Regions from separate parts of the Homo sapiens genome. Here all the other regions are linked to region 2. The links come from fine-mapping of genetic effects on gene expression. A gene starts in region 2. Each other region holds a variant in brackets. All regions are shown on one strand. Distances are from middle to middle.

The links. PIP is the estimated chance that this variant, and not a neighbour inherited with it, causes the effect. A credible set is the group of variants that fine-mapping cannot tell apart.
Region 1: its variant is the best candidate, but not a certain one, in a credible set for the expression of CENPF in lung (TOPMed, PIP 0.74).
Region 3: its variant is the best candidate, but not a certain one, in a credible set for the expression of CENPF in T cells (TOPMed, PIP 0.85).

What each region holds. Positions count from the first base shown.
Region 1 is chr1:214,638,995-214,641,758 of GRCh38, forward strand. CENPF (centromere protein F) reads left to right here. Exons shown (of 20, transcript NM_016343.4): 12 at 927-2,764. Among named protein-coding and RNA genes, the nearest start is that of CENPF, 37 kb to the left of the region's middle. The variant A/C (reference allele first, on the strand shown) is at 1,358.
Region 2 is chr1:214,601,917-214,604,680 of GRCh38, forward strand. It overlaps CENPF (centromere protein F), which reads left to right and starts at 1,279. Exons shown (of 20, transcript NM_016343.4): 1 at 1,279-1,405. RefSeq lists a silencer at 1,173-1,382.
Region 3 is chr1:214,628,745-214,631,508 of GRCh38, forward strand. It overlaps CENPF (centromere protein F), which reads left to right. Exons shown (of 20, transcript NM_016343.4): 8 at 302-427; 9 at 1,790-1,918. Among named protein-coding and RNA genes, the nearest start is that of CENPF, 27 kb to the left of the region's middle. The variant T/C (reference allele first, on the strand shown) is at 1,004.

The DNA of each region.
Region 1 (2,764 bases), 37 kb after region 2:
TTGTGGTGCTGTCTACATAAGCCCTTAACTATAAGTAGGTAGATTGAGATTGACAGCTTAGAAGTTCGTACTGCTTTCCACTTGATATGATGTCTGAGATTGTAATACATGTTACCTTTATCATCTACTGTGGAGGTTCTCAACTTTCAATCTCCCCCAACATACTTGAGCAACATGAAGCCTTCTTATCACTGTTTAATGAAAACATCGTGGTTATTCCCAACCAGGAGGGGCCAGTATGTATAGATGAGTCATTAGGCAGAAGACAGGGGGTAACGGAGTTTGAAGAAGCTTCCAAATGACTGTGACATTCATAGACACTGCCACCCTTACTATGAGGGGCTGGGATGGGGGTGATAATGTTCCTCAGGAATATTCACATATAGGCCTTGAGAATTACTGATATATGGCATCATTTACTCTTTTCTACTTAAGTCTAATCCTGTGGATGTTTTAGCTAAAATGGTGGAGTACTTATTTACTTTTCTGAGACATCAGAATTACTCTACAATAAAGTGGGATGTTCCCATTTCAGTGCTGTTCTTGTCCCAGTTTTCTCTCTTGGAATAAATATTTGAAAAGATGGTAAAAATATACACATATGTAAACACATACAAAGAAAAGAAACAGTGCTTAGGAAAATCATCCCTTGGTATTTTATTCAATAACATGTTCTTAAGCTGCTAGAAAGAAGATGAACAAATGTGTTACTCTCCTTAAGATAACCATTTTTCTCATTTTTATATAAGATAATTACCAAGTGATCCACTTTCTAGGAGGTACCCAGGCAATAATGCCAGTTTTTCCAGGGCTTGAGTAGTTGTTAGTTTGTTTGGATTTTGCCAGGGGGCGGGGGGAGGGGTTAGCGTTTCTGTAGAATAAACATTTATTACAAACATTGACGACTTTTATTTATTTTTAAATAGCGAAGAATACCTCTCAGGAAACCATGTTAAGAGATCTTCAAGAAAAAATAAATCAGCAAGAAAACTCCTTGACTTTAGAAAAACTGAAGCTTGCTGTGGCTGATCTGGAAAAGCAGCGAGATTGTTCTCAAGACCTTTTGAAGAAAAGAGAACATCACATTGAACAACTTAATGATAAGTTAAGCAAGACAGAGAAAGAGTCCAAAGCCTTGCTGAGTGCTTTAGAGTTAAAAAAGAAAGAATATGAAGAATTGAAAGAAGAGAAAACTCTGTTTTCTTGTTGGAAAAGTGAAAACGAAAAACTTTTAACTCAGATGGAATCAGAAAAGGAAAACTTGCAGAGTAAAATTAATCACTTGGAAACTTGTCTGAAGACACAGCAAATAAAAAGTCATGAATACAACGAGAGAGTAAGAACGCTGGAGATGGAC[A/C]GAGAAAACCTAAGTGTCGAGATCAGAAACCTTCACAACGTGTTAGACAGTAAGTCAGTGGAGGTAGAGACCCAGAAACTAGCTTATATGGAGCTACAGCAGAAAGCTGAGTTCTCAGATCAGAAACATCAGAAGGAAATAGAAAATATGTGTTTGAAGACTTCTCAGCTTACTGGGCAAGTTGAAGATCTAGAACACAAGCTTCAGTTACTGTCAAATGAAATAATGGACAAAGACCGGTGTTACCAAGACTTGCATGCCGAATATGAGAGCCTCAGGGATCTGCTAAAATCCAAAGATGCTTCTCTGGTGACAAATGAAGATCATCAGAGAAGTCTTTTGGCTTTTGATCAGCAGCCTGCCATGCATCATTCCTTTGCAAATATAATTGGAGAACAAGGAAGCATGCCTTCAGAGAGGAGTGAATGTCGTTTAGAAGCAGACCAAAGTCCGAAAAATTCTGCCATCCTACAAAATAGAGTTGATTCACTTGAATTTTCATTAGAGTCTCAAAAACAGATGAACTCAGACCTGCAAAAGCAGTGTGAAGAGTTGGTGCAAATCAAAGGAGAAATAGAAGAAAATCTCATGAAAGCAGAACAGATGCATCAAAGTTTTGTGGCTGAAACAAGTCAGCGCATTAGTAAGTTACAGGAAGACACTTCTGCTCACCAGAATGTTGTTGCTGAAACCTTAAGTGCCCTTGAGAACAAGGAAAAAGAGCTGCAACTTTTAAATGATAAGGTAGAAACTGAGCAGGCAGAGATTCAAGAATTAAAAAAGAGCAACCATCTACTTGAAGACTCTCTAAAGGAGCTACAACTTTTATCCGAAACCCTAAGCTTGGAGAAGAAAGAAATGAGTTCCATCATTTCTCTAAATAAAAGGGAAATTGAAGAGCTGACCCAAGAGAATGGGACTCTTAAGGAAATTAATGCATCCTTAAATCAAGAGAAGATGAACTTAATCCAGAAAAGTGAGAGTTTTGCAAACTATATAGATGAAAGGGAGAAAAGCATTTCAGAGTTATCTGATCAGTACAAGCAAGAAAAACTTATTTTACTACAAAGATGTGAAGAAACCGGAAATGCATATGAGGATCTTAGTCAAAAATACAAAGCAGCACAGGAAAAGAATTCTAAATTAGAATGCTTGCTAAATGAATGCACTAGTCTTTGTGAAAATAGGAAAAATGAGTTGGAACAGCTAAAGGAAGCATTTGCAAAGGAACACCAAGAATTCTTAACAAAATTAGCATTTGCTGAAGAAAGAAATCAGAATCTGATGCTAGAGTTGGAGACAGTGCAGCAAGCTCTGAGATCTGAGATGACAGATAACCAAAACAATTCTAAGAGCGAGGCTGGTGGTTTAAAGCAAGAAATCATGACTTTAAAGGAAGAACAAAAC
Region 2 (2,764 bases):
GACACAATTTGGTTCAAATTCTAAAACTACCAGACACTAGACTGATCATGGCAATGTCTGACAAAAGTTTTCCTCCCCTACCTGCTCTCTCCCCTCCCTTTGGGGATTCGAAGGTAGAAGATAGTAAGAACAAGGCCTTTCCCCAAATAGCAGTTTTATCTCCCAAGATGATCTGGATTTTAAATTACTATGTGCAAAGTTACTAGGGATGCAAAAATGAATTAAAACAGATTTTACTGTAAAGGAATTTTTGAGTCTGATGGGGGAGTCAGACGTAGACATAAATACAAGACAAGACACGGCGAAAATCCTAAACATGAAGTTTGCAAGTTCCAGGAAAGGTCTAGGAAATAATTATCTCTAAGGAGTGGGTGGGATTAGGGAGGTTTTATAAAAAAAGTGACACTTGAATTGGGTACTGCAGGAACAGTCTAATGAAAGGTAAAGTCAGGGGGCTGGAAAGTTTGGTACCTATTGAGGCAGACAACAGCATTAGAGATCTATTACTTTAACAATTAATTGTTTTGCTTCTGCCTTTAGAAGCTTATTTATAGTTTAATAGGGAAATAAAACGAGTATATAACATACATAGAAAACTAGTGGGCTTCACGAAAAGCATTACACCCCGTTTTGAGGATTCTTCTGAATTTTAAATTCTGATGCAGTGTCCTCCCCCCACGCCTTAATCCCGGAAAATAAGTGTTCAGAATCACGTCTTAGAAATATGAACCATAAAGGACAGCATTTAAGAGCGACATCCTGCATTGCGTAGATTCAATTTCAAATTACTGTACTTAGCTTCTATGAGCCTGTTAACTTTTTAATAAAATGAGGATAATACTTTCCTCAAAGAATTGTTAAGAACGACACCGGATAAAGAATGCATGACAAACACAGCACCTAGTATCTATGTCCTAAATTTACGTTTAATTAAGTAGATTGGTACGTGCAGTTTAAAAGAGGTTTCACCAGGCAGCACAGTTCCCCTGGCTGTAGGCGATAGACCACGCCTTCCTAATCAGCGGGCGCATTCCCTGACTTTTGCGGAAATAGCGGTCCAAAACCGCGTCTAGCATTAGCAAAAGCACGTGGTCTCCGTCTCCCCGCAACAACAAAAAAGAACAGTAAACTCCGGCGCAGGCACCTCCAGTAGAGGGCTTGTTTTTAAAATCCATCCGAAAGGGCCAATCAGACGCGGCAGTCTGAGTGCGCAGGCGCGGATTGGTCCGCAGCTACTTAGAGTGACCAATAGGCGTGGAGGTAAGTTTGGTTGAGACCAGAAGCGGGCGAATTGGGCACCGGTGGCGGCTGCGGGCAGTTTGAATTAGACTCTGGGCTCCAGCCCGCCGAAGCCGCGCCAGAACTGTACTCTCCGAGAGGTCGTTTTCCCGTCCCCGAGAGCAAGGTGAGCGTCCTGACTGGGTCCGGATCCTGGCCCTGGCGGCGGGCGGTAGGCGGCGGGCGGCGTGGGGGTGCCGCTGGCTTTTTGCCGGCGGGTACTGGGCGGGGAGGCCTCTGGGATCACTCTCCCGGCCCTGTAGGTGCCGGGGACCGCCCCCTCCCACCCGACCGAACTGGAGAATCCGCCCCGGGATGTGGTTCGTAGGGGTGTCTGCGCCCTTCTGCTCGGGTTCAAACTGGTCTCGGATTAGTGTCCCAGACCCTACTCGGTCACGGACTCACACTTTAGGGGATCATTTTCTTCCTCCGTAAAAGAATTGGAGATGACTAGGTATTTCCAAGCCGCCTTCCCAGTCCCGTAACCAACCTTATTGAAATTCAGGCCCTGGTCCTTTGTTTTATTGAGTAGATGTAAGCTTGAGTTTTGATCTGGTTGGCGACGTGGGGTGCCTATGGTTAGTTACGCGAGCATTTCTCTTTCCCCTCTCTTCTTCCTCCCGTCCACATTTTTTTTTTTCTTTTTTTAAATAGAGATAGGCCTCCCTATATTGCCTAGGCTGGTCTGGAACCCCTGGGCTCAAGGGATCCTCCCGCCTTGGCCTCTGTAAGTGCCAGGATTACAAGCATGAGCCACTACGCCCGGTCCTCCCTTCCACATTTATTTGAACGCGCCTGTGTGCCCGGCTCGGCTGTGTAATGAGGACCCAGAAATAAAAGGCATGGGTCGTGTCCTTGAGCCTGACCTAGAGGAGAAGGCAGGGTTATCATTCTCAGACCCAGCCTTGGTACAGTGCACGGGGACTCTGGCTTTTTGGAGGAGGTGGGGAATTCTGACAACGGGAAAGCAGTGGTGGAGGTGGGGCAGGAGGAGGTCACACAAGAGCTTCCTTGGGGACTAAGGGACTGGGTAGTTCGGGCATGAAGAGTGCCCTCCACGTATTTAAGAGATAAAGATACAGCATTTTCTGGAAAGGACAATAGTCCTGCAAGTCCTCCATGCAGGAACCTTCATCCAGGGCTTTTCTTCACTCCCCACCTCGATTCCCTGTTCCTCAAAAGTAAACTTCTGGGTTTATTTTTTTGTTCTTTTGCCCCAATGGCCCAATACAGGTGGCTGATAGCTGATCCCTTAATGGGCCAAAATCTGCTCTAATCACAGTTAGCTTGGTCTACATCTATATTGTTCTCTATCTTAGACTTTGGAATGGAAAAGCATTCAGCTTGCCAGTCTTCTTTATGTTTATTCCCCTCATTTTCTAATCATCTTTCTAAATTGCTCCTTTTTATATTCTGTTGGCTATAGCATCTTGATGTAATGATTTCAGTTGCTGGCTGAATTGTTTAGGGCAATTACAGTTGTGTG
Region 3 (2,764 bases), 27 kb after region 2:
ATGGGCACCCTCTGATGATTTTACAGCTTTTAAATTACATAGGCTAACACCATTGCATTTTAACCTCTCATTTCCATGCAACAAAATGTTAGATGAATCGTTAGACATGCCGATCTTTTTTTTCATGGCACAAATTAGGAAGTATTTATTTAAGTGGGCTAATGCTTTACATCCTTGCTAATAGTTCCTAAACATAAATTGTGTGCTAAAACAATTATAGCAGTTTTTCTAAAACACAAAATATTTGTTCATTTATGTGAGTAATATTTATTTTGTCTTGAACATTTTTATTCATTATTAGTATACTGCATTGGAACAAAAACTGAAAAAATTGACGGAAGATTTGAGTTGTCAGCGACAAAATGCAGAAAGTGCCAGATGTTCTCTGGAACAGAAAATTAAGGAAAAAGAAAAGGAGTTTCAAGAGGTAAGGTAAATGGATTCATGAGGTGTTTGTCTGAAAGGCTTTTTATGGGCTTTTCATAGTTTGATCACTTGGAAAGGGGAGTTGTTATCACAATTTGGGAAATTCTCTTAGAGGAGAAATGCTTTGTGAGCTAAAGGTCATCTTATTTTCTTTCACATCTTCACTTTTGCGCTTTTTTTAAATCTTTCAGTTTTTGATTAGAGAAGGGAATTAGTATTCAGAATTCATCCATGTTTTCTGATTTGTTTGAGATTTGATATTCAGTAGGAAAGGATCACTTTTCTTCTTTTGGACATTTTCTCTGCTGTGGAGGAAATTGTATTACATTTTCCAGTAGGCTTTTAAAATTTTTTTTTCTTTCACTCTATTTCCTTTATAACTCCAGTATTTTTTTTTTTGAGACAGAGTCTCGCAGTGTTACCCAGGCTGGAGTGCAATGGCACAATCTTGGCTCCCTGCAACCTCCACCTCCCAGGTTCCAGCAATTCTCCTGCCTCAGCCTCCCGAGGAGCTGGGATTACAGGCATGCACCACCACACCTGGCTAATTTTTGTATTTTTAGTAGAGATGGGGTTT[T/C]GCCATGTTGGCTAGGCTGGTCTCGAACTCCTGACCTCAGGTGATTCACCCACCTTGGCCTCCCAAAGTGCTGGGATTACAGGCATGAGCCACCATGCCTGGCCAACTCCAGTTGTTTTTAAACCTGTGGGTTGGTAAATAAATTAGGAGGGTAGTTGATGTGGTGGGGAAAGTGGTTGGCAGAAGAGTGAGGGTGGAAGGTGCCCTTCCATAAGTATCTGCCAATTTGGTTCTTTCAGGTGATTTAGCCTGAAAAAGTACCATACGGATTAAGAGTCTATAGATTTTAAATAAGAATGCCTGGAAATGTTAGCTGATATCTTTCTGTGGTTATTAAAGTTAATGGGTAGCATATATTTCCTGTCCTTCTACATTTAAGCCCATTTAAAGTGGTATACAGTTTTTTGTGTTTTAAACACCGTTTTTGAGTATGTTTGGTTTCTTAGTTGAGCTTTGACTGTTGTAGCTCAGTTCTTCTCTCTTGCCCCTGATCCTTCAAAGTAGAGGTAATTAATTTAAGACTGAAGATGAGGTGGAAACAGGCTACTTTCCATGTGGTCAACTGATAAGAGTCCTTCCCCTTTCCCTCAGAGACCTGGATTTGATGCCTGAGGGCAGCATGGAGCACCAAGGCTGACTATGTTCATCGTTAAGTGGACAGTTGGCTCAGCTCCCTGCTGTCTCCTGTGCTCTCTGTGCAGTCGCCTGTTAGGATGCTCATGCCTCACCCTGGAGTCTCCCTAGCGAACCATCATCAGGCTGATGCACCTGCCCTTTGTTTTTCAGGAGCTCTCCCGTCAACAGCGTTCTTTCCAAACACTGGACCAGGAGTGCATCCAGATGAAGGCCAGACTCACCCAGGAGTTACAGCAAGCCAAGAATATGCACAACGTCCTGCAGGCTGAACTGGATAAAGTAGGGGCCGTGTCTCTCTCTCTCTCCTTAATCATCCCCTCTTGTTCCTTGTACTTGTTACTTCTCTACCATAACTGACATATGATACTTTCAAAGAAAAAGCGCTCCACCTTCACTTTCCCTATCAAAGTGGAGAATGTACAGAACCATTCTGGCTCTAGGTTTCCTCATCTAGAGAAACAGTGGGGGTGAGTTAGGATTTCAGATCCGAAAGTCTGTGGAGCTCTCTCATAATCTGTTGGTTCTTGGTTCCATGACCAGGTGGGAGCTGTCCCAAGTAATTTATGCCCCCAAGTAGTTAAAGCACTGAAAATTATAATCACTTTACTTATTTAAGACTCACTCCCAAAGTGGTCTCATCCAGTTTTGTGGCTTTACATATCATCTATGTGATGATGACTCTACCCAGCCTGGATGTCTATTCTAGACTTCAGGTGTGTGGATGTGTGCTTGACAGTCCACTCACATGTCTAAAGGCACTTCATAGTAACATGCTAAGAATTGAACTCTAGGTATTTTTCTTTTTCAAAACTGTTCCTCCCTTAGTCTTCCTTACCCTGCTAACTTGCACTTCCATTCCCCGCATTGCTGGGACCAAAACCTCCATGTCACTTCTATTCTTCTTTTTCTCTTACACTTGAATCTGCTGCCTCTACTGATGGATACTTAGGTTATCAACATTTTCTTGTTCCCTGTGGCACTGTTTGTAATATCACGGGGCAGGTATCTTTGTGTATGTGTGCTGATGTTTCTATAGGTCAGATTTCTGCATGTGAAATTTATAGCCTAAAGAACATATGCATCCCAATATTTGTGTGTTTTGTTTGTTTGTTTGTTTGTTTTGTT